Homo sapiens: one gene and its partners. Changing the gene in region 5 together with the main gene of any one other region gives a genetic interaction. Each region holds a gene or a part of one and is shown on either strand. Other genes may lie near its edges.

The links.
Region 1: changes in SCYL1 (region 5) and TRPM7 together harm fitness more than expected from each alone (negative genetic interaction), as found in Homo sapiens cells (one large-scale study listed by BioGRID).
Region 2: changes in SCYL1 (region 5) and PSMD1 together harm fitness more than expected from each alone (negative genetic interaction), as found in Homo sapiens cells (one large-scale study listed by BioGRID).
Region 3: changes in SCYL1 (region 5) and COPE together harm fitness more than expected from each alone (negative genetic interaction), as found in Homo sapiens cells (one large-scale study listed by BioGRID).
Region 4: changes in SCYL1 (region 5) and SF3B1 together harm fitness more than expected from each alone (negative genetic interaction), as found in Homo sapiens cells (one large-scale study listed by BioGRID).
Region 6: changes in SCYL1 (region 5) and METAP2 together harm fitness more than expected from each alone (negative genetic interaction), as found in Homo sapiens cells (one large-scale study listed by BioGRID).
Region 7: changes in SCYL1 (region 5) and WDR7 together harm fitness more than expected from each alone (negative genetic interaction), as found in Homo sapiens cells (one large-scale study listed by BioGRID).

What each region holds. Positions count from the first base shown.
Region 1 is NC_000015.10:50,589,018-50,593,245, forward strand, and holds part of TRPM7 (transient receptor potential cation channel subfamily M member 7), read right to left. Parts: intron 3,610-4,228; coding exon 2,894-3,609; intron 640-2,893; coding exon 575-639; intron 1-574. UniProt on the Homo sapiens protein: Bifunctional protein that combines an ion channel with an intrinsic kinase domain, enabling it to modulate cellular functions either by conducting ions through the pore or by phosphorylating downstream proteins via its kinase domain.
Region 2 is NC_000002.12:231,070,057-231,074,284, reverse strand, and holds part of PSMD1 (26S proteasome non-ATPase regulatory subunit 1), read right to left. Parts: coding exon 4,117-4,228; intron 2,097-4,116; coding exon 1,870-2,096; intron 1-1,869. UniProt on the Homo sapiens protein: Component of the 26S proteasome, a multiprotein complex involved in the ATP-dependent degradation of ubiquitinated proteins.
Region 3 is NC_000019.10:18,909,243-18,913,470, forward strand, and holds part of COPE (coatomer subunit epsilon), read right to left. Parts: intron 3,805-4,228; coding exon 3,742-3,804; intron 1,830-3,741; coding exon 1,729-1,829; intron 1-1,728. UniProt on the Homo sapiens protein: The coatomer is a cytosolic protein complex that binds to dilysine motifs and reversibly associates with Golgi non-clathrin-coated vesicles, which further mediate biosynthetic protein transport from the ER, via the Golgi up to the trans Golgi network.
Region 4 is NC_000002.12:197,403,519-197,407,746, forward strand, and holds part of SF3B1 (splicing factor 3B subunit 1), read right to left. Parts: intron 1,955-4,228; coding exon 1,757-1,954; intron 1,660-1,756; coding exon 1,558-1,659; intron 1,337-1,557; exon of another isoform or gene 1,200-1,336; intron 247-1,199; coding exon 67-246; intron 1-66. UniProt on the Homo sapiens protein: Component of the 17S U2 SnRNP complex of the spliceosome, a large ribonucleoprotein complex that removes introns from transcribed pre-mRNAs.
Region 5 is NC_000011.10:65,527,655-65,531,882, reverse strand, and holds part of SCYL1 (N-terminal kinase-like protein), read right to left. Parts: intron 1,255-4,228; coding exon 1,096-1,254; intron 308-1,095; coding exon 200-307; intron 1-199. UniProt on the Homo sapiens protein: Regulates COPI-mediated retrograde protein traffic at the interface between the Golgi apparatus and the endoplasmic reticulum. Involved in the maintenance of the Golgi apparatus morphology.
Region 6 is NC_000012.12:95,504,935-95,509,162, forward strand, and holds part of METAP2 (methionine aminopeptidase 2), read left to right. Parts: intron 1-4,228. UniProt on the Homo sapiens protein: Cotranslationally removes the N-terminal methionine from nascent proteins. The N-terminal methionine is often cleaved when the second residue in the primary sequence is small and uncharged (Met-Ala-, Cys, Gly, Pro, Ser, Thr, or Val).
Region 7 is NC_000018.10:56,657,584-56,661,811, reverse strand, and holds part of WDR7 (WD repeat-containing protein 7), read right to left. Parts: intron 1-4,228.

The DNA of each region.
Region 1 (4,228 bases), on a different chromosome or scaffold from region 5:
AAATTTTTAAAAAAGAAATGTAGGCCGGGCACAGTGGCTCACGCCTATAATCCCAGCACCTTGGGAAGCCGAGGCAGGCGGATCGCTTGAGGTCAGGAATTTGAGGCCAGCCTGGACAACATGGTAAAACCTCATCTCTACTAAAAATACAGAAATTAGCCAGGCATGGTGATGCGCACCTGTAATCCCAGCTACTCAAGAGGCTGAGGCAGGAGAATCACTTGAACCCGGGAGGTGGAGGTTGCAGTAAGCGGAGATCACACCACTGTACTCCAGCCCAGGTGACAGCGAGACTCCGTCTCAAAAAAAAAAAAAAAAAAAAAAGAGAGAAATGTTAAATAGCTGATGTTTTTTATTTAGTGAGTATAATTACGCAAGCTGTTTGTACCTTTTCATGTTCCTCAATTGTTCATTTTTTCAAACTGAGGACAGCTTCAAATATTTGGTATCAGCATGTTAATGATATCTGCTAAAACTGTATTTTTGCTGAAAAAATGTTTAATTAAATTTTGAACTAAACATCAAGACAGTAAAATAAATAGAACTGTGGGTGTTTTAATAAGGATTTACTTACGGATAGTATTTTTATCTTGTTTGATGTTTCTTTAAACCTCTGTAAATCCATGCTATCTCTGTGTCCTTTAATAGAAAAAAAGATGTTGCAATGAGAAATTTTTATTTTTCTTCACCGAAATAATGGCACTGCTTAAAGTTTATAAAAACAATAGGTTTATGCTGTTTTTCAAGTACACTTGATGGCTCTGCAGTCTCCTTTAGCTCTTTTGATAAATAAAATTGAAAATTGCCAAGAAGCTGGTGAAGGTTACAGTTTTTTTTGTTTTTTGTTTTTTTAAATTTGAGAACAAGTCTCGTTCTGTTGCCCAGGCTGGAGTGCAGTGGTGTGACCTTGGCTCACTTCAACCTCTGCCTCCCGGGTTCAAGCAATTCTCCTGCCTCAGCCTCCTGAGTAGCTGGGACTACAGGCACGTGCCACCATGCCTGACTAATTTTTGTATTTTTAGTAGAGACAGGGTTTCACCATGTTAGCCAGGCTGGTCTTGAACTCCTGAACTCAAGATCTGCCTGTCTTGGCCTCCCAAAGTGCTGGGATTACAGGCCTGAGCCACCGCACCTGGCCAAGATTATAGTTAAGTTTACAGTAACGTTAAAAGCCAAAGTCCTTATAAAACAAACCAACATGTGATATGAATAAATAGCTCGAAATTTAAAAGAAAAAAGGGGACCAAGCATTTTTACTATTAATAAAAAAAAAAGCATTACATATATACGGATAATCACTCAAAAAGGAATGATTTATTCTTATGCCTATAACTTAAACAAAAACAGAACAAAAATATTTTGGCAATAACACTTTAATGACCTTAATGAAAACTGTTCCACACATAGAGATTGTTCAGACAACATGTTAATAAGCCCATGTATAATCTCCACATTAAGACCAGTCTAGCAAGTTATTCAGGCACTGAACATGCTGATACTTACTGCTAGGCTATATGGAATTCACTCTAGATATACAGATATGTAACTTTTCCTATATAATATACATGTAGAGAAAATATATATGATATATACATACACCCCACTGGTAATACATTAACAAATAGGCTAAAATGCATTTTTAAAAATAAATTGGAAATTAGCCAGGTGTGGTGGCGTGTGCCTGTAATCTCAGCTACTCAGGAGGCTGAGGCAGGAGAATCACTTGAATCTGGGAGGCAGAGGTTGCAGCGAGCCGAGATTGTGCCACTGCACTCCCGCCTGGGCGACAGAGGGAGACTCCGTCTTTTAAAAAAAAAAAAAAAAGGGGGAATATATTTAACGTAGGAAAAGTTATATCTATGTATCTAGAGTGAATCCCATATAGCCTAGAAGTAATATCAACATGTTTAGTGCCTAGATAACTTCCTAGGCTGGCCTTAATGTGGCAATTTTCCATGGGCTTATTAACATACTGTCTGAATAATCTCTATGCATGAAAGTTTTCACTAAGGTCTTTAATGTGTTACTGCCAAAATAAACATTTTTTTTTGTTCTTATCTTATTTAAGCTATCATAGGTATAAGAATAAGTCATTCCTTTTTGAAATGTTCTCTGTGAATATATAAATAGGTACACCATAAGTACTAATTTTCCCAGTAGATTCCTAGATTTCCATTGTTGTTCTGATATAATTATTAATAGTGCACCCTTTCACTTTTAAAGTGTCTTGGTTTGGGTAAAAAAATTATATGGTCATCTATTTATAGGGCACTGTTCTTTTCCAGTTGATTCTAACCTCCCCTATGAGGTTCTCCAAGTACTTAAGAATCACTTAGGTTTTCAACAAGAGTTGATGAAACCCAATTGAAGATATTCAAATTCAAAAGACAGAACCTAAAATTCCATCAAAGAGGTTATGTGCCAATATAACTCTTATAGCCTAATTCAGTCTATTTCCCCTACTTCTGATTTTTTTTTTTTTTTCATTTCATTTCTAGAGACAGGGTCTCATTCTGTCACACAGGCTATGGTGCAGTTGTGTGATCACAGCCCACTGCAGCTTTCAGCTTCTGGGTGCAAGCAGTTCGCCTGCCTCAGCCTCCTGAGTAGCTGGGACTTCAGGCACATGCCACTGCGCCTGGCTACTTCCAAAAATTTTTTGTAGAGATGGGGTCTTGCTATGTTGCTCAGGCTGGTCCTCAACTCCTGGGCTCAAGCAATCCTCCCCACTCAGCCTCCCAAAGTACCAGAATCACAGGTGTCTGATTCTTTTTAAAAATTTTATAATTATACTCTATGAAAAGATAATGACTTGTAACAGTACATATTTCTATTATTTCTAAGGTGAAAAGTAAATAATATTGATATACAAATACGAATTTGCCAAACTTACCTACAAATGCTCCAAATTCTGTATTATCTCCTTCTGTAGCTTTAGAGCAAACAGTTTCTTGATCTTTGGTTCCAGTTTCCAAGTGGCTTTTGCAACTTGGCTGAGATGGTGTACTAACAAAAAATTTGGTTGGTGGGGATGACAGATGTGGTATGCTAGTAGATGAACTGCCTAATTTTTGATTTTTATTAAATATTTTTAAGAGTTCTACCCCATGTAGTCTCTGTCGCAGTTCTGGAGGGGAAACAGCACTTGGGAATAAGGCACCAGAAGAGGAACCAGCCTCTGGAAAATTAAATTCTTTTCTCTGGGGTACTGCAGGTAAGTCTTGACCAAATATATTACACTGGGGATCTTTGTCATCTTTCATTAAAATATTACAATGAAAAGGATTATTACTTTCAAGATCACCTTGAGGAAGAGAGGAGCTAAGTGTATTTACAACACCATGCTTTTTCCATACAGAAGGTCTTACAGGACCATCATCAATAAGGTTTTGAGCCAAGTGTTTGGAAATGCTCAGTTCTCGTGTGATTTCATTATGAACTTTGCTAGCTTCCGACGCTTTCTGGGCAGTGAGTGTTTTTAATGTATCTACCGTCAGGGCTGAAAGATCTTGCAAATGGCCAATTTGAGAATCTAATGATTGTAATGATCTTTTTATGTAGTTGACACGATCTCCAACTTCTTTAATCTGAATGCACATCTGTTCCACTCTGTAGGAGAGAAATAAGCTTTTTTTACAAATGTGAAAAAATAATGTAGAATTTTATTTTGTAGCCTCAAATAATAATGATAAAAAGAGAAAAATTTCACATGCATTTAAACAAGATATAAAATAAGGTACAGTTATTTAATTATACAAGGCCTACCTTATGTTTAAGAAGGATCCAGTGCTAATCTTATATTAAAATGCAAGATTTCAAAAAACGTTTTTGTTCCACAGGCTACTTATTCCAATTACCCCACATCAAAGTAACACAAAATAATGTATATACAGCTACATATATACAGAACTACCATTACTGTTACTGTAACTGTTACCAAACACCATATGCTTCCAGAATGTAGTGAAGCCAACAGAAAAAAAGAAATGCTGGCCAGGCACAGTGGCTCACGTCTGTAATCCCAGAACTTTGGGAGGCTGAGGCGGGCAGATCACGAGGTCAGGAGTTCGAGACCAGCTTGGCCAACATGTTGAAACCCTGTCTCTACTAAAAATATAAAAATCAGCTGGGTGTGGTGGTGCACGCCGGTAATCCTAGCTACTCAGGAAACTGAGGCAGGAGAATCACTTGAACCTGGGAGGCGGAAGTTGCAGTGAGTGGAGATTGT
Region 2 (4,228 bases), on a different chromosome or scaffold from region 5:
ACAATATAAAAATTAGCCGGGCATGATAGCCTGCGCCTGTAGCCCCAGCTACTCAGGAGGCTGAGGCAGGAGAATTGCTTGAACCCAGGAAGGTGGAGGATGCAGTGAGCTGAGATCGTGCCACTGTACTACAGACTAGGTGACAAGACTGAGACTCTGTCTCGAAAATAAATAAAAAATTCTATCCCCCTAAGATTGAAAAAAATTAAAGATTTTTTTCACTGCCTCTTATCACTTCTGTAAGTATTGGGAATTCTAGCCAATATAGAAAAAAAAGAGAGGGAAAAGGTATAAAGATTACAAAAGAAGGAGTAAAATGCTCTCTAACTGCAGATGACCAAGATGCCAATAAACAGAATTCTGTAAAAGGATCTACTTTAAAAAATTTACTTAAAAAAATCATTTATAAAGCTATAAATGATTTTATCAAGGTCATAGGATTCAATGTTAGTATATAAAAATCAATTATATTTCTATATACTACCAACAAAAAAAATAGAAATTTAAAAATACCACTTCACAACAGCATCAAAAAACAAATTATACTTAGGGATATAAGAACATTAATTTAAGAAAAGATGTGTAAAACCTCTGCACTGAATCTACAAAACACTACTGAGAAAAAAATAAAAAACCTAAGTAAATGAAAAAGATCACCATATTCCTGGATTACAAGATTCAATATTATCGGGATTTCAATGTGCCCCAAATTGAAGATATTCAATACAATCCCAATCAGAACACCCACAGACTTATATAATGCAAAAAATCTACAATAGCCCAAAGAATCTTGAAAAAGAAAAAAGAATCAAAATTGTAGGTCTTACAATACCTGACTGCAAGACTTAGCATAGTTTTAGTAATAAGGAAAGAGGTAGTGATATAAAGAAAAATATAGGCATACCTTTGTTTTACTGCCCTTCAAGGAAGTCTATTGGAGCCACTTCTCCAATAGTATGTGATCACTTTGTCCTTGTGTTACATTTTAGTTATCCTTGCAATATTTAAAACTTTTTAATTATCGTTATATCTGTTATGGTAATCTGTCATCAGTGATCTTTGATGTTACCATTGTAGTTGTTTTGGGACACCACGAACCACACCCATATAAAACAGCAAACTCAATCAATAAATGTGTGTGTTCTGACTGCTCCACACACCGGTCATTCCCCCATCTCTCTCCTTCTCCTTGGGACTCCCTATTCCCTGAGACACAACAATATTGAAATTAGGCCAATTAATAACCCTACAATGGCCTCTGAGTGCTTAAGTGAAAGAGAGAGTCCCACATTTCTCAGACACAGATATCCAGTGAAAGAGCGGGCTAGGGGGCTGCCGGCATATACAGGCACAACTAAGACACACAAATGTTTTTAGTAAGTGATCTAAACGTGTAAAATACAGAAAAATAAAATTTTAATACCATATCAATTTGTACAGAATGCAAATTTCTAATACTATAGAAATTTGTGTATTTAGTTCTAATAAAAGCATAAAAAGCTGAGAATGTTCTTTACTTTCTAAATATCTAACCCAGATATATCTAACCCAAATATCTAAAAGGTAGCCCCAACCTATCCCCACCTGTTTTTTTAAATTTACTTGATTAAATAGTACACATGTTGTCTGGTAGGCCCTCCCTACGAGATAATCACTTCTATTTCTTTCCAGAAGGGTCAATTTCTTCGGTTTTCCTTACTACACCCAGCACAGTACAAAACAGAGCAACAGCCTAATAAGACTTTACAATCTATGAAAGCTAGTGGCAAAATTTATTCTTAGAATATGCTTCCTATAAATATTCTACCTGTCCCCAAAATGAAATAAAGATTATTCAATTAGTTTTGATGCAGAAAAAGGTACTTATACCTGTCTTTCTCTGATCCCGGAACAGTACCCGTATTAGTGGATCCAGGCACAGAAGCAATAGGGGTGCCAACAGTTCGAAGATTCTGGATTACAGATGACAAAAACTGCTGGCTAGCACTTTCATACAAATCAAAACAAATCTGATATGCCATCAGGAGGTTGTCTTCCTTTACCAGTTTCTCTAAGATATCACTCACAGCCTGAGGATCATCTAAGAAAATTAAGCACTGAAATGGAGATAAAGAACAATTATTCAATAATTAAAAACTTCATCTACAAGGTACTTAAGGAGACAAAATCAACATTATAGAAAACCTTAAAATATAAGCACAGGCAAACTAGGGCAGACTATCCAGTCTAGCACTCTATTTCTAAACCCAGCACTAGATGAAATTTTTCTAAACATGGCATCTGTCTTCCATAAAAAAATTCATACAAATTATATTTATAACTCTTAATGCTGTGCCTGGTAATCAGCAGTATTCAACATTGGTTGTTGAATGAATCTTGGCTTCTTTAAATCTTATCCATAAGTTATACCTAAGTGCTCCTTAATTTGTTATTTTCTCCCTTACCATATATTATGGAAGTTACTCATTCATTTAACATACATTGTGTTGTGTTGGGCCAGGACAAGAGACATTAAAATTACCATTTTGAAGCATTTCTCTTACTACTCTTATGATCTGCCATTGTTTTAACAAAATTATCCAACAAAGTTAGAATTTTTCTTTTAAAAACTCAATTTAAATTTTCTTGTTCCCTTAGGCAGCAAGTAACTCAACTTCAAAATAAACACATTAATCAAAGTTATTATAAATTAAGAACACGAAATAACACAAACAAAATAAGTGGTCAACAATAGGGGAATGATTAAGTAGGGCAAAGTACATACACTGAATGATTACAACAATCAAGTAAGAGGACTCTATGAAGAATTAGAACATGGAAAAATGTTAAAGACTGTATACAATTAACACTGTTTATCCACAGAGAAAAGAACTTGGTAGCTGGAGCCAAGTAATAGGAAGACTTCATTGTATACCCCATCATTCTTTTTGAATTTTAAATCACATGAACATATTATCTGCTCAAAAATATATTATTTTAAAAATGAGCAATAAAGTTTTTAAAAATAATAAAAAGATAAGGAATAAAACAGCTGAAAGAAATAAAATTGCCTCTAAGGAATAAAACTGAAATACAGACAGGAAGAGGGCAGGGAACTACTATTTTTCATGTCAGTTTTAAAAAAAACTATGAAAAATATTTACAAACAACAAAACTCCGAAAACCTATGTAGAGAAAACTGAAAGGAAATACACTATTAAATACTAAATTGACTTTGGGTGATGTAAAAAATCAAGTTAGAATAGTAAGTTGACTTTGGGTGATTTAAACATGGATATTTTTTCTTCTAGTATTTTGTTTCAAACTTGCTTTAAAAGGGATTGTAAAAAACAGTGTTTTAATCTAAATTTTCAAAGTCTAGAGGATTAAAATACACAGGAGCACATTTTAATGAAGAAACAATAAAATGTGCAATAAAATGCTATGCCCTGAGCAGAATACAAAAAATGTATACAACATAGCAATTGTTAAAAAGTAAACCCATGCACACCTCCAGTCAATAAAATACAATACAGTCATTAAAAGAATGCAGTAGATCCACATGTGTGAATAAGTAGGGAAAAACATCTATGTCTTACCTTTGGGAAAAAGCCCAAATGATGGGAAAGAGAAGCCTTACTTTTCATTTTATATATTTTCTGTACCATCTGAATTTTTTTTTATGTGCAAGCAAATTTATATATAGAAAGAGATAAAGAAAAGATACCCAAATGTTTTGGTGTGTATGGGTAATGAAACCATATATAATTTATACACTTTGAATTCTCTTTAGAATGATATAGTATAGCATAGGCACTGTTTTAATCTTCTAGCTTTTTAAAAAACCTTCGTTATTTCTAAAAATTTCCTTAAATTATTGGATTTTCAAAATGAAAAAAGAATACAAAGAAAGAATGTGTTACAACAAAATAGCTTTTTAGTGTTGTGAGATTTAGTTTCTTATTAATAAAAAGGAATATAAAGCACATACCTTATTTTCACAGGGCTGCTGTGAAGATCAGCTGAGATACATGTATAAAGCCATTATAGTAATATAAAGTAATAAAATGTGAAGTGGTATAGCATAGCACAGTACAGCGTGGAGCAATGTAATGAAACATAATTTAATGTCATTACCTGACAAACATTGATGAAATCAGGTTTCTCCAAGTTCATGTAGATTTTAACTAGAACTCTTAGTACTTTATTCCGAAACTGTTTATTCTGCATTAAAGACATGCAGAGCTTA
Region 3 (4,228 bases), on a different chromosome or scaffold from region 5:
GGAGGTCACCTGTCTCAATGTCCTGGAGCTGCTGTGGCAAAGCACCACAGCCCGGGCAGTTAAGGACAACAGGGATTCGTTCCTCACAGCTCTGGAGGCCGTAAGTCTGAAGTCAAGGTGGCGGCAGGGCTGGCTCCAGCTGGAGGCTGGAGGGCAAGGCCGTCCCAGGCCTCTCTCCCAGCTCTGGTGGCTGCTGGCCACTCGTGGTGCTCCTTGGCTAGCAGACATGTCACTCCAGTCTGTTGTCACATGGGCTTAACTCTGTGGGCCTCTTTCCTTTTTTTTTTTTTTTTTTTAAGACAGTCTCCCGCTGTCACCCAGGCTGGAGTGCACTAGTGCGATCTTGGCTCACTGCAACCTCTGCCTGCCAGGTTCAAGCGATTCTCCTGCCTCAGCCTCCCAAGTAGCTGGAATCACAGACATCACATCCTGTTAATTCTGTATTTTTAATAGAAATGGGGTTTCACCACGTTGGCCAGGCTGGTCTTGAAAACTCCTGACCTCAGGTGATCTGCCCACCTCGTCCTCCCAAAGTGCTGGGATTACAAGTATGAGCCACTGCACCCAGCCCTCCTTTTATCTCTTAAAAGGACACAAGTCCTTGGCTTTGGGGCCCACCCTAAATCCAGCATGTCTTCATCTCCTTATCTCTTAATCTGATCGGCAAAGACCCTTTTTCCAAATGATATCATATTCACAAGCATGTGGGATAGGATATGGACGTACCTTTTGGGGGACACCATTCACCCCACCATGCTGCCTCTGCACAGGAGTCAGCTCCCAGGAACCCCAGGTTTCTTTGAGTGAAGGGAGGCGGTAGTTGGGACACTGCCTCCGTGGGCCAAGGAAGAGCAGGATCACAGCAGTCTCCCCATGCCAGACCCTCACTCCGACCCCACAGCAGGAGGGGGCAAGGTTCCTGGGTCCCCACAGCCCAGCCCCCTCTCCCCTTGGCTGCCGCCCATGGGCGTTTGACCAACGCTGGCCTGTGGCTCAGGGGCAGGACAGGCGTGGCCTCACCCACCCTCCCACTGGGCTCCAGGGGAGATACTGGCAGGTTGCAGTCCCCAACTAGCTGGGACTAGAAAACTGATAGGATTTGGGAGGCTGAGGTGGGCAGACCGCCTGAGCTCAGGAGTTCGAGACCACCCTGGGCAACACGGTGAAACCCAGTCTCTGCTAAAATACAAAAATTAGCTGGACGTGGTGGCACGCAGCTATAGTCGTAGCTACTCAGGAGGCTGAGGCACAAGAATCACTTGAACCCAGGAGGCAGAGGTTGCAGTGAGCCGAGATCTCACCACTGCAACTCCAGCCTGGTGACAGAGTGAGACTCCATCTCTAAATAAATAAATAAGAAAACTGATGGGAGGGCCCTGCCCCCGCTGCGCCCTGGGCTGTCTTGGGGCTCTGGGTGTTGCAGAGGGCTGCTCGGTAATTGATATTTTCAGTTCTAGGTTCAGAGAGTGCCTTGTGGTCCATGAGGGCGTGTGCACACACAGCACTGTCTCTGACCCTCCCCTTTGAAGCAGGATCCATCACCAGCCCCCCACTGCTGTGCAGGTGAGGGAAACTGAGGCACAAAGCAGCAGGGGAGCAGAGGGGAGAGGCGCCTAATCTGAGGGATGCTGTGCGCTGCACGCCATGCCCCCACCCACCCAGGTTCATAACCAACAGGCCTTGAAGATGGCCCCGCGCCTCAGGCCAACCCATTCTCTGGGGCCTCACCTCCGACTCTCGTGGGCGAGGTAGTCAGCAAACATGCGCACGGCCTGGAGCTCAGGGGCCGAGGAGGGCTTGATCTCATCCAGGACCACACCGAACTTCCTCTGCAGTAGGGACGAGGCGTCAGCTGCACCCGTCCACCCCAGAGGATTTCCATGTCTTCAGCTTGGCAGGGAGAGCCCCAGACAGGAAGTCCCTGCCCCACCAGGGACCCCTCAGCCCAGCATGGGCCACCTCCACTGCAGTACACTGTGGAGGGTGGCATGGCGTCACCTGTCGTGAGCAGCCAGGTGTGCCCTCATCTGCAGGGCCACACTGCCCATGCCTTGAGCTAGGGACCCTGGTAGGTTACTGTCTATCCCCTGGCAGCTGTCCACCTCTGGTGGTGAGGTGAAGGGCGTGTCACCTGGGGGCAGGGCAGCAGCAGTTATGGGGGTTGTGACATGCGCTTCTATAAAGCAGGACATGCCCCCAGCCAGCCCTGCCCACCTACTGGCCCTCTGAGGATGCCCAGACTGATACCACTGTCACATCTGCAGCTGGGGGCCCGTCCCTCATTGTGTTCCCTCCTAGATGGTTCCTTCCCCATTTTTTTTTTTTTCGAGACGGAGTCTCGCTCTGTCGCCCAGGCTGGAGTGCAGTGGCGTGATCTCGGCTCACTGCAAGCTCCACCTCCCAGGTTCACACCATTCTCCTGCCTCAGCCTCCCGAGTAGCTGAGACTACAGGCGCCCGCCACCACGCCCGGCTAATTTTTTTGTATTTTTAGTAGAGACGGGGTTTCACTGTGTTAGCCAGGATGGTCTCAATCTCCTGACCTTGTGATCCACCCACCTTGGCCTCCCAAAATGCTGGGATTACAGGTGTGAGCCACCACGCCCGGCCTTTTTTTTTTTTTTTTGAGATGGAGTTTCGCTCTTGGTGCCCAGGCTGGAGTGTAATGCTGTGACCTCAGCTCACCGAAACCTCTGCCTCCCAGGTTCAAGTAATTCTCCTGCCTCAGCCTCCCAAGTAGCTGGGATTACAGGCATGCACCACCACACCTGGCTAATTCTGTATTTTTAGTAGAGACAGGGTTTCTCCATGTTGAGGCTGGTCTCGAACTCCTGACCTCAGGTGATCTGCCCGCCTTGGCCTCCCAAAGTGCTGGGATTACAGGCGTGAACCACCGGGCCCAGCCCCCATTCTTATTTTTTTAGAGACAAGGTCTTGCTATGTTGTCCAGGCTGGAGTGCAATGGCGTGATCACGGCTCACTGTAATCTTGACCTCCTGGGCTCAACTGATCCTCCTGCCACAGCCTCCCAATTAGCTGGGACTCCAGGCACATGCCACCATGACTGTCTTATTTTTTAATTTTTTTTTGTAGAGACGGGGGTCTCACTATGTTGCCCAGGCTGGTCTTGAACTCCTGGCTTCAAGTGATCCTCCCACCTCAGCCTCCCAAAGATTACAGGTGTGAGCCACTGTGCCTGGCTCCTACCAATTATTTTAGGAAAAAAAAAAAAATCGGCTGGGCGCGTTGGCTCACGCCTGTAATCTCAGCACTTTGGGAGGCTGAGGCAGGTGGATCATGAAGTCAGGAGTTCAAGACCACCCTGGCTAATGTGGTGAAACCACGTGTTTATTAAAAATATAAAAATTAGCCAGGCGTGGTGGCGCACGCCTGTAGTCCCAGCTACTTGGGAGGCTGAGACAGGAGAATCACTTGAACCCAGGAGACGGAGGTTGCAGTGAGCTGAGATCGAGTACGACAGAGTGAGACTCCGTCTCAAAAAAAAAAAAAAAAAAATCAAGAAGCTGTGACCCAGGCCCCCTGGCCTGGCAGTCTCAGGCCTCCGTGACACAGCCACCTTCACATGCTGGCTGCGCTGGCTGTTCACAGTCACTGAACACTGCAGGCCTGGGTCCCTGCTTTGTTTACTGTCCCCGCCACCCACTCTGTGGTGCCTTCCTGTCCCCAGCCCCACCCTCTACTCTGTTCATCACTCTTGCCCCCGGCCAAGGCCCGCACTCACCTGCGCCAGGTACGCTCTATACAGGAAGACGTCCCTCTCCACGTCTCTCTCTGGGCTTGATAGCTGTGGGAACCAATGTGAGTCAGGACGCACAGTGGGAGGCCCAGCGCAGCCCACACAGGGTGAGCATGACAGACAGGCCCCTGTACACTGGGGACAGGTGGCTTCTCCGGCAGGGTTGGAGGTCTGAGTCCCAGCCCTGATCCTCCGTAGCCCGAGTGGCCTCTGCTGGGGGTACCCTACACGGGGGGTGCCTGATCTCATCCCGCGCTGACACCACCCCAGGAAGGAGGCTTGCTCCCAAGTTCAGTGTCTGCCCCAGTCACACTTAAGAAGCCAGGGTGGCACCCGCACCTCTAACCTCTGGACATGGGGCCACTGTGGCTTGATTCTGTTCTGCTTTTGTCTCAAGACATTTTGAGCTCAGTTTGGCTGCCCCAGTGTGGTGACATCTGTGCCCAGCCCTGGCCAGGGGAGACCCTGGGAA
Region 4 (4,228 bases), on a different chromosome or scaffold from region 5:
TTAACATTGATTAACTGAAAAAGTTAAAACTTTAAACTATCAGAAACACTATTAAGGAGAACAAACCTTATGCACATATGGACGAACTAAGTCATCAAGTTTGTACAGTATCCTATCAATAACTTTCACAAGTAAATGACGCTCTTGATCCTCAAGTGTAGGAGACATCAGCAGAGGAAGAATCTGATTAAACAAAGGACCAGCTCCAAATTCACGAGCTTTATCAGTAATCTGACGCAATGCAGCCTGGGAAAAAGAGCAGAGTAATAGGTGTGGTTTCTTTATAATCAAACATTTTGAATGAGCAAATTACTCAAAGAAGATTTTCCATACTTTAATATTTTAGTGTTTACTTTTACACACATTTTACATAGACAGCATGAGTTCATTTCCATCCAAATTACTCTGGAATTTCAATTCCTGTGATAGAAATTTTATGTTAACTCAAAAGAGTAATTTAATAGAACGAACCACAGAGGTATGTACTAAATGCCTTCATTTCCCTGAAGTATCTTCCATTTCCAAGGCACATATAGTGTTAACATAATCCCTCACATAATTTCACTAATTATCTTCAAGCTTTAAGCATATTTTAAAGGCCTTAAGAACAAAAAGGAGAATCTCATTTTTCAGCATTTTTATTAGCTTTTTTAACCAAAGAATTTTGTGCTAACTCCAGCTGGGCACGGTGGCTCACACCTGTAATCCCAACACTTTCGGAGACTGAGGCAGGAGGATCTCTTGAGCCCAGGAGTATTTAAATAATAATAAAAACAAACGGCTGGGCATGGTGGTTCACACCTGTAATCCCAGCACTTTGGGAGACCGAGGCAGGTTAATCATTTGAGGCCAGGAGTTCAAGACCAGCTTGGCCAACATGGTGAAACCCCGTTTCTACTAAAAATACAGAAATTAGCAGGGCGTGGTGGTGCACGCCTGTAGTCCCAGCTACTTGGAAGGCTGAGGCACAATTGCTTGAACCCAAGAGGCGGAGGTTGCAGTGAGCCAAGACTACACCACTGCACTCCAGCCTGGGCAAGAGAGCAAGACCCTGTCTCAAAAATATATATATAATATTAATAATAAAAACAAGCAAAAAAGTTAAATCCTTCACACTACATAAATTTTTTCCCCTCATGCTATGTCCTTGATAAAGATGAAGACAGTAATTATAAATTCCTAAACACAAAAATATAACACTACCAAAAGTTAATTTTTTATGGGGAAGGCTTTCTAAATAACCTTTACCAATTTGGGCTATTTGGGAGAGTAAAGGAAAGACCACACTCCACAGCGGGCTATACCAATAGTTCACTACTATTTTGTGGTCTACATTTCCTGGTGAAAAAATTAAAAACATTTTTAAAAATATAAACATGGCCAGGTGCAGAGCCTCACACCTGTAATCCCAGCACTTTGGGAGGTAGGCCAAAGCAGGAGGATCACTTGAGACCAGCCTGGGCAACATGGCAAAACCCTGTCTCTACAAAAACTACAAATTTTTTTTAATTAAATAAATAAGCAACAAACATGACAATTTAACAAACTGGGACTTACCTTTCTCATTGGTGGTGTTCCATTCTTAATTTTTAAAAGCAACTTCATTATTTTTCTCTCTTTTTGCTCTTCTGGACTAAGTGTTGATTCATCAACATCAACCTATAGTAAAAAGAAAAAAATGTTAAGGGAAGTTGAAATGTTATGATTTATAATTCTGGAACACAATTAATAGTTTATTTCTGCTAGTATCACTTACCAATAGTTTATCAAAGTATTGAATATCATCAGGTTTTAAAAATGGAAGATTTCCAGATGGCTGGTCATTAACACTTTTCATAGTTCGATCTTCAGTTTGCATGTGGAAACCAGTCATACCACCCAAAGGTGTTGGAGTAGCTGTCAGCTTTCGAGCTGGAGTTCGAATAGGAACATAACCAGCTGGAGGAGGAAGTACCTAATAAAAGTTATAAGACAGTTTAGGATTTTCTTAACTTAAAAAACAGCATAATGAACAATATTTGCACTTAAAATATTTTAGTTTATTAGCTAATAAGGTTTTTATTTGCTTGGAGACAACATCTATCTTGCTTTTCTATCTTAATTAGAAACTTAAAATATATACTTCTCATCCACTAACTGATTATATCCGTGGTGTAGGGAACTGAGGAAACACAAGAGAAGAGCTTAGAAAATACTAATCACATTCAAACATGTTGTGGGTCAAAATGTCAAATTATTAAAAATTTGAAAATTATAAAATCTGAGTCAGCAATTCCAAAAAATGCTGTAGTCGAGCAAATAATGTTTCATAAGATTTATATAAAATGGAAATAAGCTCATATGGGGCATAAAACATAAAAAATTATATTTTAGTATTAAAATGTCACATAAATTCTTGCACTACAAAATCTTTTAAGTGTAAAACTCTACAAAAATTAGTTAAATGCATAAAAACTAAAACCAAAATGTTTGCCAAAGCCCTATAAAATACACACCACCTGATCAAACCTTTTGCAAAACGAGTAAAATTTCAAAAAATGCAGGCTGAAAATCACAAAGAAATTTTTTTTTTTTTTTTTAAAGCTGGTAACAGACTTCAAAAAAAAAAAACAACTTCTGGACAGGCCAGGATTACAGCACTTTGGGAGGCTGAGATGGGAGGAACGCTTGAGCCCAGGAGTTTGAGACCAGCCTTGGCAACATGGCAAGACCCCATCTCTATTTTATATAATTTAATATATAGTAAAAGAAAAAAAATACAACTTCTTGGAGAGGTCAATAAACCTATACACGTCTTCTCCAGTGAGCCTAAAATTGTTTTGTCTATTAAAGATTAAATTATGTTAAATTTATATTGATGCTATCTGTACTTTGCACAGATATTTTTTGTTGCTAGTTAACGTCTGCACCAGCACAGACCACTAAGCATTTTGGATAAAGTGGATACTCTAAAGATGTGAGGCCTAGAGAAATCAATGTCAAGTCCACAGGCATCACTTGCCATTAAGGATTTAAAGGTCTACTATATTTTTATATTCACTAGTAAGGACGTTGCTTATTAGTAGGATTCACTAAGGGAGACTTTTCCTCCTAGTGACACTAAGGAAATCAATGACTACGACTGAGAAAGACATGCAGGCAGTCAACAGTAAGTTCTGTCTATCTATACCCACAGTTCTATCTATACCCACAGCATTATGTGGAGGCTACAAAAAGCTTTAAGGCAAAACTTCATGCAAACTTGAAACAAATACTCTAACACAAATAACAGGGGATCAAAAACAAAACAAGGCTGGACACAGTGGCTCATGCCTATAATCCCCAGCAGTGTGGGAGGCCAATGTGGGTACTTTGAGCCTAGGAGTTTGAGACCAGCCTGGCAACACAGTGAGACTCCCGTATCTACAAAAAATAAAAAAATTAGCCAGGTATGGTAGTGCATGCCTGTAGCCCCAGCTACTCAGGAGGCTGAGGCAGGAGGATCACTTGAGCCCAGGAGTCCAAGGCTGCAGTGAGCTATGTCAGCGCCACTGCTCTCCAGTACGGGCAACACAGTGAGACCCTGTCTCTAAAACAAAACAAAACAACAAAAAACATACTCATGAACTGTTAAAAATCAATAGTCATTAACAGAAAAAGCTCTGTAAAGGCCATCAGATGACTTACAAAGTTATCTGGTTCCCCCTGGTTATGATGTCAGCTATACGACCACAGACTATCTTCAGACTAACAAATACTCCCTGAGTACCAGGTACCTAGAAAATTTTATAGTTCAAAATAAATTTTAGGTTGATATGATAAAAAGGCCAGGCACGGTAACTCACGCCTGTAATCCCAGCACTTTGGGAGGCTGAGAGGGACGGATCACTTGAGGTCAGGAGTTCAAGATCAGCCTGGCCAGCATGGCGAAACCCTGTCTCTACTAGAAATACAAAGATGAGCCGGGCATGGTGGTGGACACCTGTAATCCCAGGTACCTGGGAAACTCAGGCAAGAGAATCGCTTAAACCTGGGAGGCGGAGGTTGCAATGAGCCGAAATCACGCCACTGCACTTCAGCCTGGGCAACAGAGTGAGACTCCATCTTTTAAAAAAAAAAAAAAAAAAAAATTCTTTGTGTCCACTGACAATCCATAAACTTAAGTATATAAAATCTTGGTGAAGCACCAAGTAAAATAACCACAATCTCAACGAGCTTATTCCTGGGACTGCTAGAAAACTGAAGCACC
Region 5 (4,228 bases):
AAGCTGGCCATTCCCAAAACTGCCAAGGAGCCCTGTATGTGGCCAACTTTCTGAGAGCCTGGCCTCATTGGGTCCCTCAGTTGTGTGTATGTTCAGGGGTGGGGTTTCTGGGGTCCCTGTGCAGCCAGGGCAGGTGCCTCCCCAGCCACCAGGTTGGGGTCTGGGTGGACCACCACAGAGTCTGGTACAGAGGCCTCACCTGCTGCAGGAGGCGGATGCGCATGGCCCGGTCAGTGGATGAGAACATCTTGACCACCACAGGGATGATCTTCTGCTGATACTCCTCAGCGCTCAGGAACTTGCCCACCTGAAAGGGCAGGAAGATGGGTTCAGCTGCTCACAGGAATGGGCTGACTTTGCTGGGCTTATCTAAATTCCTGGGGCTGATATCCCAGGGTGGGAATGAAGTGATGGCGGAGGGGGGGGCAGGCATTTCCTCAGTAGCTCCTCTACCCATATTCCATCTCAGCCTTGCCCTTAACCTTTCTGGGCCAAGGCCTCTTTCAGGAGGCTGATGAAAGCTCTGGGCCCCTCCCTACAAACAGGTACCTTTATGCCATATGCAGAAATTCTGCCTGCAATTTCTGGGGGTTCTCAGCTATACAGGACTTGCTTGTTGTCTTCTCCCCTCCTGACAAGTCTTTCAGATGAAAGGGTTCTCCCCAAGGTGAGGAGGGCAGGGAATGCCAGGTGCCCATAAAAAGGCGGGCTGGGGTCTGAGGAAAGGGTGGAAGATCCAGCCCCCAGAAGTCAGGTGAGCTGAGTGCTAAGCAGTCAGGAGGGAGGAGGGCAAAGTGGGGTGGTGAGTAGGTAATCCCCTGGGCCCTGGGAACCAAGGTGCACAGGTCAGACCCGGAGAAATGGAGGAAGGGCTGAGGGTTGTGAAGCCAGAGGTTTGTGGAAAAAAGGATTTTAGCGGCAGAGTCTCTCCTCCCCAGGGGACAGCTGGTCAGGTACCTGTTTATAGACACTGGCAGGAAGCTCCTGCTCATATGGGCTTGGGTCTGCCCTAAACAGCCTGCCCTACCCCAGGGCCTTCTCTTTGGCAGTTCCTGTGCACCCAGCCAGCCTTCTGGACCCCACAGTTCCACTCACCTTGAAGAGGGGCGTGAGGACAACGGCCCCAGCATTGCCGAACTCGAAGGCGGTCAGCAGCTGGGGCAGCACCTTGTGCCGACAGAAATCCTCAGGGAATGCGTCCAGGCTCTTGCTCAGCTCCTGGAAGAATTTTTGCTTCTCGGCTGGCTCTTTGATCTGGGGGAGTGAGGACGGGACCCGGGGAAGAGATCAGCCTGGTTGCAGCCCAAACCCAGCCATGGGTGAGGACAAGGAGAAGTGATGCTTATGGGCCTTATGGGCTCTGGAGCCTGGCTGCCTGGGTTCAAAGCCCAACTGTCCCACTTACCTGCCATGTAAAATGGGATAACAGCTCTACCATCTACGGGATAGTTCTGGGATTCAACCAGAAAATGCACATAAAAGCTGCAGAACAGGCTGGCACACGGCAGATGCTCGGTGGGTTAGGGACTGTTGCTGCCATTGCGGCTACCTGACCTGTTGCTGGGAGAGCAGCCACTAGGGACAGCAGAGGCATCACTAAGGGCATCAGGCCCTTTATCAGTGTTGCCTCTACTGCTCGCCACCCAGGATGTGAGCACAGAGGAGGAAACTGAAGATCAAAGAGGTGAAGGGGCTTACTTGGTTTCCCTGCCCTGGCTGGATTGGGCAGGAAGTTCCTGGTAGGCCGTGGGAAGGCAAGGATTAGGTACACTTTACTCCCAGACCTCATCCTCCCACTGAGCCAAAATGGACCAGCCTGTAAGCTCAACGGTCTCCTTTAGTCCTCCTAACCCCCCTTTGAGGCCATAATACCCCCAATTCATATTTCTGGAGCACAGATTATGTGCTAAAACCTTTACACAGATTATCTCAGTCCTCTTCACAACTTTACCAGGTAGGTGCTAATGTAATCCACATTTTACCAACAAGGAAGCTGAGGCACAGAGAGGGCAAGGAGCTTGTCCAAAGTCACACAGCTAAGAAGCGGTCAGAGGAGGGTCTGACTCACTGGTTTGGCACCTCTCCTGTGCTGTACCCTTCAAAAGATGCTGTCACTCCCCCCATTCACAAAGGAGGAGACAGAGGGTCAAGGTCAGCAGCCAAGAGTGGCCAGGCAGGGGTCATGACCCAGTGTTGTGTTCCAAAGTCCCTGTGCTCTCTGTTGTACCACCACCCCCATAGCCGCGGCTTGGCCGGGGAGAGGCGACCTCTGGCTTGGGACAAAGAGGACCTAGATGGCCCTTGAGCAGCTCAGACCAGCGTGGGAGGCCGGCTTGGTGCTCTGATCACATGGTTCAGCGGGGCCAAGGCCCAGAGAGGCTAAATCACATCCAAGGTCATACATCAAGAGAGTAGCAGCTGGGTTCTCCCCACCACTCCACCTAACAATGGGAAGAGGGGCCCCTGGGCACTGCCCTCCCATGTTCTCCTGGAGGCTCCCGAAACCCTATTTCCTATGGGGTACACTTTAAGGAGAAGGGTAGCTTGGCAGAGCCAGCCGTACGAGGAGAACTCCACGTAACAAAGTTCCTGCTGCCCCGACACTGCCCAGGAGGCAACGGGGTCTCAGCGTTTCCAGCAGCTTCTCCTTCCAGGTTTCCACCCTCCAAAGGCCCTCCCCGCCCCACAGCATCTGAGTCAAGATTCCATGACCTCTGCTGGGTCAGGGTCTGTGGAGTGTCTGCCACTCTCCTCCCCTGCTCCTGATTCTGATTCTCAGCCCCCGCTGTCTTCCCCACACACGGCTGGGGCCGGGCATTGCATAGAGCAGAGCCTTCCTCCCTCCTCCCTACAGCAACCCTGCAGGCCAGTGCACCCAGATGCTCCTCACTATACACATGTGGAAACCAAGGTTCAGAGGCAAAGCAGAGGGCTCCCTCCTCAGTATCTCTCCACGTGCTGTCGCCTCTGCCTGGAACTCTTACTCCAGGTACCATCCCTCTGGCTCCCACAGTCATGTCCTTCAGGCCCCAGCTCCAATGTCACACTTCAGAGAGCCCATCCCTGAATACCCACTCCAGTACTTTCCTTCCTGCACTGGATTTTTCTTTTCTTTTTTTTTAAGACTGAGTTTTGCTCTTGTTGCCCAGGCTGGAGTGCAATGGTGCGATCTCGGCTCACTGCAACCTCCTGCCTCCCAGGTTCAAGCTATTCTCCCGCCTCAGCCTCTGGAGTAGCTGGGATTACAGGTATGCGCCACCATGCCTGGCTAGTTTTTTGTATTTTTAGTAGAGACGGGGTTTCTCCATGTTGGTCAGGCTGGTCTCAAACTCCTGACCTCAAATAATCCGCCAGCCCCGGCCTCCCAAAGTGCTGGGTTTACAGGCGGGAGCCACCGCACTGGCTGGTTTTCTTATTTATGGTGTTCTTTTGTTTGTTTTGAGACGGAGATTTGCTCTTGTTGCCCAGGCTAGAATGCAATGGCACAATCTTGGCTCACTGCAACCTCCACCTCCCAGGTTCAAGCGATTTTCCTGCCCCAGCCTTCCTGAGTAGCCGGGATTACAGGCATGTGCCACCACTCCCGGCTAATTTTTGTACTTTTAGTAGAGATGGGGTTTCTCCATGTCGTCAGCTGGTATCGAACTCCCGACCTCAGGTGATCCACCCGCCTCAGCCTCCCAAAGTGCTGGGATTACAGGCGTGAGCCACTGCACCTGGCTCTTATTTATGGTTTTTATGTTTTCTGTCTCTTCCCCAGCAAGAGTTCCCAAGGTTGGGGATCTGGTCTGTTTACTTTTTGCTAGATTCTTGAGGACAGTGATCTAGGTCCGCCTCACCTTCCTCCACACCGTGCTGCCCACCCCCCTGCAGCCAGTACAGGGTGTTACACCCCTGGGGACCAGAGCCAGAATGTACACGTGGAGTGACTGGAGTAACCAGAGCTGGCCCTAAATGCCTGCTGGGCACAGAACACTATACCACACATTTTCAATTCTGACTCCTCACTGGGTCCCTTTGAAGTAGGTACAGGTTGAGTCTCCCTTGTCCAAAATGTTTGGGACCAGAAGTGTTTCAGATTTCAGATGTTTTTTGGATTTTGGAATATGTGCATTATACCAATTCAACATCTTTTTTTTTTTTTTTTTTTTGAGACGAAGTCTCACACTGTCGCCCGGGCTAGAGTGCAGTGGCACGATCTCGGCTCACTGCAACCTCCGTCTCCTGG
Region 6 (4,228 bases), on a different chromosome or scaffold from region 5:
TTTCTGGTGCTGTACGTTAACCTCTGTCAGTCCAGTCCTCCTCTGGCTCCCAGGTCTGTCTGACCATCCCCCAGCCACCATCCTCCTCCCTCATCTGTGCTCATTATTCTCTGTGATCCTGCTGTAATAACTTCCTTATAGACTATTTTCTATATTTCCTTTAACAGAATTCTGTCTCTCTTTGTAGACTGTGAGTGGAGACTCTCATGTTGTTTTCTTGCCTCTTAGTAAATTCACACCATTCAGCATTCTTTGCATTTCCTGTTGCCCATTATGTGTTTCTACCAAGAGCAGAAGTGATTCTTCCTCTGGAACCTGACCGTGCCTTCTATATAGACAGTTACCACCAACGTAACAGTCCTCTTTCATGTCTAAATACTGAAATTTATTACCAGACTTAAACTTTTTTTTGAGACAGTCTCTCGCTCTGTTGCTCAGGCTGGGATGCAATGATGCAATCTCGGCTCACTGCAACCTTTGCCTCCTGGGTTCAAGCGATTCTGCCTCAGCCTCCTCATTAGCTGGGATTACAGGTGCCCACCACCACGCCCGGCCAAATTTTTTTTTTTGAGATGGAGTCTTGCTCTGTCACCCAGGCTGGAGTGCAGTGGCACGATCTCGGCTCACTGCAACCTTTGCCTCCCAGGTTCGAGCCATTCAAGCCATTCTCCTACCTCAGCCTCCTGAGTAGCTGAGATTACAGACGTGTGCCACCATAGTTGGCTGCTTTTTGTATTTTTAGTAGAGGCGGGGTTTTGTCATGTTGGCCAGGCTGGTCTCGAACTCCAGACCTCAGGTGATCCGCCCACCTCGGCCTCCCGAAGTGCTGGGATTACAGGCATGAGCCACCGTGCCCAACTCTTTTTTTAGACAGAGTCTGCCAGACGTGGTGGCTCACGCCTGTAATCCCAAAACTTTGGGAGGCCAAAGTGGGTGGGTCACCTGAGGTCAGGAGTTTGAGACCAGCCTGGCCAACATGGTAAAACCCCGTCTCTACTAAATACAAAAAAAAAATAGCCAGGCGTGATGGCACACACCTGTAATCTCAGCTACTCGGGAGGCTGAGGCAGGAGAATCACTTGAAGCCAGGAGGCAGAGGTTGCAGTGAGTCAAGATTGCACCATTGCACTCCAGCCTGGGCGACAGAGTGAGACTTCGTCTGGGGAAAAAAATAAAAAAGAGTCTTCCTCTGTTGTCCAGGCTGGAGTGCAGTGGCACGGTTGCAGCCCAACCCCCTTGCTCAAGCACTCGGTGGAGTGCGCTCAGCTTCCCGAGTAGCTGGGACTACAGATGTACAGTATCATACCTGGCTAATTTTTGTATTTTTTAAAAAATATTTATTTTTATTTCTAATATATATGCTTTTTTTTTTTTTTTTTTGAGACGCAATCTCACTCTGTCGCCCAGGCTAGAGTGCAGTGGCGCAATCTTGGTTCACGGCAACCTCCGCTTCCCGGGTTCAAGCGATTCTTCTGCCTCAGCCTCTCAAGTAGCTGGGATTACAGGCATGCGCCACTACACCCAGCTAATTTATTTTTGTATTTTTAGTAGAGACGGGGTTTCACTATATTTGCCAGGATGGTCTCAATCTCTTGACCTCATGATCCGCCCGCCTCGGCTTCCCACAGTGCTGGGATTACAGGCATGAGTCACCGTGCCCAGCCTATATATGTTTTTTGATATCAAGATATTCTTCCATTTCATTGTTCTTCAAGGTTTCATTTCCCTTCCTCCTGCCTAGACCCTGTGTTGGCAGCTTTAATTCTTCTCTCATCTATATCTTTAACTTCTTTGTTATTTGATTTTCAGATATTCTCTTTAAGATCTCTAATCCTGTGAACACAAGTGCAAAGCAGAATACTTATTTATTTATTTATTTATTTATTTATTTATTGAGACAGAGTCTTACTCGTTCTGTCACCCAGGCTGGAGAGCAGTGGTGCAGTCTTGGATCACTATAAGCTCAGCCTCCCGAGTAGTTGGGATTACGGGTGTGTGTCATCATGCTGGCTAATTTTTGGACTTTTTTTTTTAGTGGAGATGGGGCTTCATCATGTTGGCCAGATCAGGCGATCTGCCCACCTTGGCCTCCTAAAGTGCTGGGATTACAGGCGTGAGCCACTGTACCCGGCCCAGAATACTCTTGATGTTACTCACACTTAGGTAGGAGGTGTGGGATAATGAAGAAAACACACTTTGGGGTTCAGGCAGTTTTTACTTGGAGTCTTAGATAAATCTGTAACCTGAATACCCAAGTTTCTTGACTGTAGTAGGGTTAATGGTATCTAGTTTATTTTGAGAAATGTAAATTGTGTGATAGTGCCTGGAATTTATTAAGTATTCAACAAATATTTGTCATTCTGTCCCCTTCTCACCCCAATTCTGGGATTAGTGCCACAAATACAGTGCTTATTCAGGCTCTTCCAAATCGCTCTTCGCATCCAGGAAATTACTTACCTGATGAGAAAAATAGCCAAACAAGCCTAACACTCTTTAACATTTTTTCCACGTTGCATAAAGAACATGGCAAAATACCAGGATTGGCAAATGCCGGGATTTGCCCATCTTCTCCCTATTCTTATGTTTTTATCTCTGTTCTTCAAGGAAGAAATATTCTGTCTTCTATACAGTATTTTCTTTAAAATTTTTTTAAATTGTTAGCTCAAACACTGCGTTAAGGATCTTCTTTTCAGTGTTAATCCTCCACCTCCTTTGAGATACCACCTTATTACGCCTTTTCTCTACATACTCAGCCTTTCCCCTAGTGGCTCCTCTCAGTGTGAAAGCACATGTGGAGGAGAATAAAAATCATAGCATTAGATAACCTTCCATGATTCTCATGATTTTTTTTTTTTTTTTGAGAGAGACTTTTGCTCTTGTTGCCCAGGCTGGAGTACAATGGTGCGCGATCTCGGCTCATCACAACCTCCGCCTCCCAGGTTCAAGCAGTTCTCCTGCCTCAGCCTCCCGAGTAGCTGGGATTACATGCGCCACCACGCCCAGCAATTTTTTTTTTTTTTTTTTTTTTAGTAGATGTGGTGTTTCTCCATGTTGGTCAGGCGGTCTTGAACTCCCAACCTTAGGTGATCTGCCTGCCTCGGCCTCCCAAAGTCTGGGATTACAGGCGTGAGGCACCGCACCCAGCCGATTCACATATTCTACTTTTGGCTTTTACTTACTGTTATGTGAAATTTTTACAATTTATTTTTACATTAAGACATGATTTAAATTTACTATGTTCCTTAGTAAGGGTAAACATACTTTTCTTTGTATCCTAGCCAAAGCCATAAGGAAAGCAAAAGATTTTTAAAGGCTAGAATTTAGAAGATCTCATTTCCAGTGTGCTTTTCTTTGGAAAATGTTTTGTCCAGTTCTTTAAATAGCTTAGAACCAGTTTTAGGAGTTGCTGCTTCTATTAACACTTTATGAGCTCCCCAGAAGCAAGATTCTTAACCCAAAGAAAGCTGAGATTAAGAGCATAAATGCCAAGTTAATTTGAGGAATTTATGGGACTAGAACATGGGCCTTCTGATTTCTAGGTTCACTGCTACAAATGAACAGAATCTATTTCCAAATTCGTGAGTCTTATGTCAACTTGGAGTACACACTGTAGCAGTCTGCTTGGGGGACTACCTCTAGAGTTAGTTATTTCTCTTTTTTGAGAATTTGCTGAAATTTTTGTAAATTCCAACACTAGCCAACATATACCAATGTCTTCTCTTTTTCCTTTCATTTTCTCCTAATTCTACAACTTGTTTGGTATGTGGTCTGCCTTTCAAGGTATGGTAGGTGACAGTTTGACTTAATGTTTTAGTCACTGCATAATAATTCCAGCCTGCAACATCGGGATTTTTAATATCTACCCTTTTACCTCTTCCATTAAGCTAGTGCAGCATTTTTGGTTTCATTATTTCAGTACCCCTCTTTTGATCCCTGTTATTTTATTGATCAGTGTTCTTAGTTTAAGGCAACAATCCATTTTTATAGTTTAAGCAGAGAGGATGTGGAAAAATCATGATAATAGGGAGATGAAGAAATGGATTCCGGGTTGAACTTTCCAGAACAAATCAAAACACATAGCACAAACGGGCCATCAAAGGAGTATCTTAATCTCCTTTGATCAGGAAGCAATAGAATTAAAAAGTGATTGTTAACAAATTACTGGTCCCAGAATTAGCCTGTGCTGTTACAACCTGCATAAGTAAAAAATGAATTCCCCTGTACCCTC
Region 7 (4,228 bases), on a different chromosome or scaffold from region 5:
GTTTATTATACTACTATGAAACAGCTAGGTCATAAAAACACACTAAAGAAACTACTCGGCTGCTTCCTTATAACAAAGTGTTTCCAGAATTTAAGGGCTGTAAGGGACACAACCTTCTGAACACTTAAGCAGCTGACAAGATTATACTTTCTTATTTGGGTGGTTAAGAAATATACTGTACTCTCAATGAGCCTGACACTTTAGGACTGCTTGGTTAAAGGAAGCCCCAGTGTTCGGTTTCAAAGGAACATGTGGAATGAGCAGATGGCAACAGGAGACTACACTTATTTCTTATTGCTAAACAGCCCTGAGTGCATGAGAGACAGATTTTGAAGAACTGCAGAACTATCTGGTCAAAAATAAATCACATTTTAAAAGTGATTCATAGATGCTGAGGCATATAAATCATGTTTTAAATTTCTGCAGGTGATATTATAATGAATGAACTCTTCTGCTTATGCTGTATCCATCACCAACCTACAGCAATTTCAAGAGTTACTGATTAAGCTAAAAGCCCATTATGCCCACCAAGACCTTACTTTTTAAAGGAAATTCCATTTGGTTGAACCAACTTCGACTTTCTCCTGCCACCCACCTCTAATCTCATTTGCATCTCCAGTCATTCCAATTTCTTCCCTTAGGTTGCCATCAAAAGTCTAAACTGAGCACTGAACTTTCTCGTTGTATATAAATTGAATTAAACAGAAAAAGAAGAAACAAACATGCTTCCCCAAATTTGAAGCTGAATTGTCACATTAGTCTTGGAATCACTAAAATAAGATGGGCAACTGTGAAGGTATGAAAGTCACACTAACTAGAGAGGAACCCAGCTCTCCATTTCCATTTTAAACTCTGAGGAAATATGTGATGTCTCAAGTTAAACTTCTCATTTGTAACATTACCCTCCTCCTGCTCTGCCTGTCACAAAAACTGCCCTTGACAAGGTCACCAATGACCTCCCCACTGTTAAATCCATTATCAAGTTCTAACCCTTATCTTACTTGACCTACCAGCAATTTGACATAGTTCATATTCCGTCTTTGAAATAAATACTTCTTTACCTGGCCTCAAAGTCTTCACTTTTTCCTGACTTTCCTTCTTCTTCTCTAGCTTTAGTCTCCTTTCTTTCTTTTCTTTCTTTTTTTTTTTTTTTAACCTTTAAATATTGGCATTCCCACAACTTAGTCCTTAGACTTCTCTTCTCTGGCAACACTCCCTCCCTCAATGATCTCATCAAGCCTCATTGCTTTAAACCATCTATAGGTTGAGTATCCTTTATCTGAAACACTTGGGATCAGAAGTGTTTTAGATTTTGGATTTTTTTCAAATTTGGGGATATTTGTATTATACTTACAGGTTGAGCATCTCTAATCTGAAAAATCTAAAATGCAAAATGCTCCAATGAGCATTTCTTTGGAGTGTCATGTTTATGCTCAAGAGTTTTGGATTTTGGAGCATTTTGGATTGCAGATTTTGACAGTTCCCCAGTTTATTGTGTGGGATGCTTTTCTGAAATCCAAATCAGTATGTCCAGCTTCCTACTCAACATCTCCTTTTGGATAGCTAATAAGTTTCTCAAACTTGGCATGTCCAAAAGTGAGCCCCTGATCATTCCTCAATGGTGCCCCTCCCACAGTCTACCCATCTTAGTTATTGGCAACTCCAGTTTTATAGCTACACAGACCAAAATCCTAGAATCATCTTTAGTTACTCTATTACTCTCTCACACATACACATTCCACATCCCAATCCATCAGTAAACTCCACTGGCTATACCTTCAAATCATATCCAGAATCCTGCAACATCTCAACACTTTCACTACAACCACCCTATTCTCAATCAGCATCTTCCATCAGGGATAACACAACAGCCCTCTAACTGGTCTCCCTGTTTCCATCTTTGCTCCCCTGCAGTCTCAACACAGCATATAGAGTGACACTATTAAAAAAAAAAATCATGCTGTGATCACATCTCAAAATCTTCCAATGGCTTCCTGTCTCACACATAGCAAAAGCCAACTCTACATACAACTGCCTATCCTATATGAGTGAGGTGGTTGTTCTCTCCCTTGCTTACTCTTTTCCATCTGCTCTGATTCATTGGTGTTGCTCAAAGATACTAAACAGAATCTTACCTCAGAACAGTGTCCCCCACCCCAGATTCCTTCTGGCACACTCCTTTGCCCTCTTCAAATCTCTATAAAATATTACCTTTTTAGTGAAGAGTTTCCTGACCATCATAAATTGCAAAATCTACCACTCAAACTAAACACTTACAATCATTTAACATACCATATGTTTTATTTATTTATCATCTGCCTCTCCTGGTGTATGTTCTATGATGGTAAAGATCTGTGTTTGGTTTCTTCTCTATTGTATTCCCAGTGCCTAAAATTCCTTCCACATAGAAGGAATCCAAATACTTGAATAAATAAACAAACTAGTGAATGAAATATGTTTGCGTTGGTTTAAGTAAAGTTGCACCCATCAGCAAATTAAAGTATATCCCGATTTTATATGTTTTGGATTTCACAGGGCAGTTTCTTGTCAACTAGTTCTTCTATAATAATGTCAACAATTAATACAAGCCTCCTTAATCAAAATGTCATTAACATATTGTTTTTTTCCCCAGCTACAGGTTTTACCTACGCTCCTGCCTCTTTTAGTCTATCGTGACATATACACAGCAAAATATATCTTAGGGCCTATGAAGCAAATTAGCTGACATAATCACTACTACAGTCACTAAGGCCTAGTAATTAATCACAACACTGTTTCTTAAAAGTAAGTACAGGGGGCCGGGCGCGGTGGCTCAAGCCTATAATCCCAGCACTTTGGGAGGCCAAAGCTGGCAGATCACAAGATCAGGAGTTCAAGACCAGCCTGGCCAACATGGTGAAACCCCATCTCTACTAAAAAAAAAATACAAAAATTAGCTGGGCACAGTGGTGCACGCCTGTAGTCCCAGCTACTCAGGAGGCTGGGGCAGGAGAATCGCTTGAACCCAGGAAGTGGAGGTTGCAGTGAGCCAAGATCATGCCACTGCACTCCAGTCTGAGCAACAGAGTGAGACTCTGTCGTTAAAAAAAAGTAAGTAAGTACAGTGATATTTCATTCGTGTGAATTTTTTGCTCCAACTAATGGAAGTTTATACTGTTTATTTGTATTTGAAACATTTAGAAAAAAGAAGAGCCTTTAAGGAAGATAGCTTAAATGTGAAATAAACTTGAATGTGAAAACAGAAGGTAACTGGCTCACTCTATCAGTCTGTTATCACTGACATATACCAACTACCAACATTCAGAGAGAAACATGATGTGCAAAAAACTATCTTCAGTGAGCTTGTAGGGTCATAAATTACAACTGCTAAGCTGAATGGGAGACTGCATTTTCAAAGTCATGTATTTCCAGGCTGGGCGCAGTGGCTCATGACTAATTCCAGTACTTTGGGAGGCCGAGGCAGGCAGATCACTTGAGGTCAGGAGTTTGAGACCAGCCAGGCCAACATGGTGAAACCCTGTCTCTAATAAAAATACAAAAATTAGTTGGGTGTGGTGGTGCACACCTGTAATCCCAGCTACTTGGGAGGCTGAGGCAGAAAAATTGCTTGAACCGGGGAGGCAGAGGTTGCAGTGAGCCGAGATCATACCACTGCACTCTAGCCTGGGCGACAGAGCGAGATTCTGTGTCAAAAACAAAACAAAACAAAAAAACAAAGTCACATATCTCCAGAAATGTTATATTTTAAAGAGCCTACAGAATAACGCTTAGCACTTCAGAAATCTTCCCTCCCCTAAACTGACCAGTGCCCTAACATTCGTTGTTCCAACATTTTATGGCTCCCACTAACTCAAGTAATCAACAGCCAAAAAAAAAAACCCCTGTAATTTCATTAAACGTCACCAACATAGTTTGAAAAAAAATCCAATTTTATTTAAAATAGTAAATACTTCATGAATGTAATATATATGTTCCTTAATAGAAAGGAAGTAAAAATTTCCTTGGACTCACAAGGACTTTCTGAATGCAGTCATGATGTAGGATTTCTTCTTCCAACATAATTGTTTGTGTTCTTTTGTATTCAGCAAAGCAGCTTTAAGAATCAGATACAGACAAAGACAAACGAACCATATGGATGGAATTCAAATTGTAAGTTAACATTACTATCATAGTACCTGTCAGTGAGAACATGTCCTCTTATTGATGGCAGAATTTCACTGAGCTATCC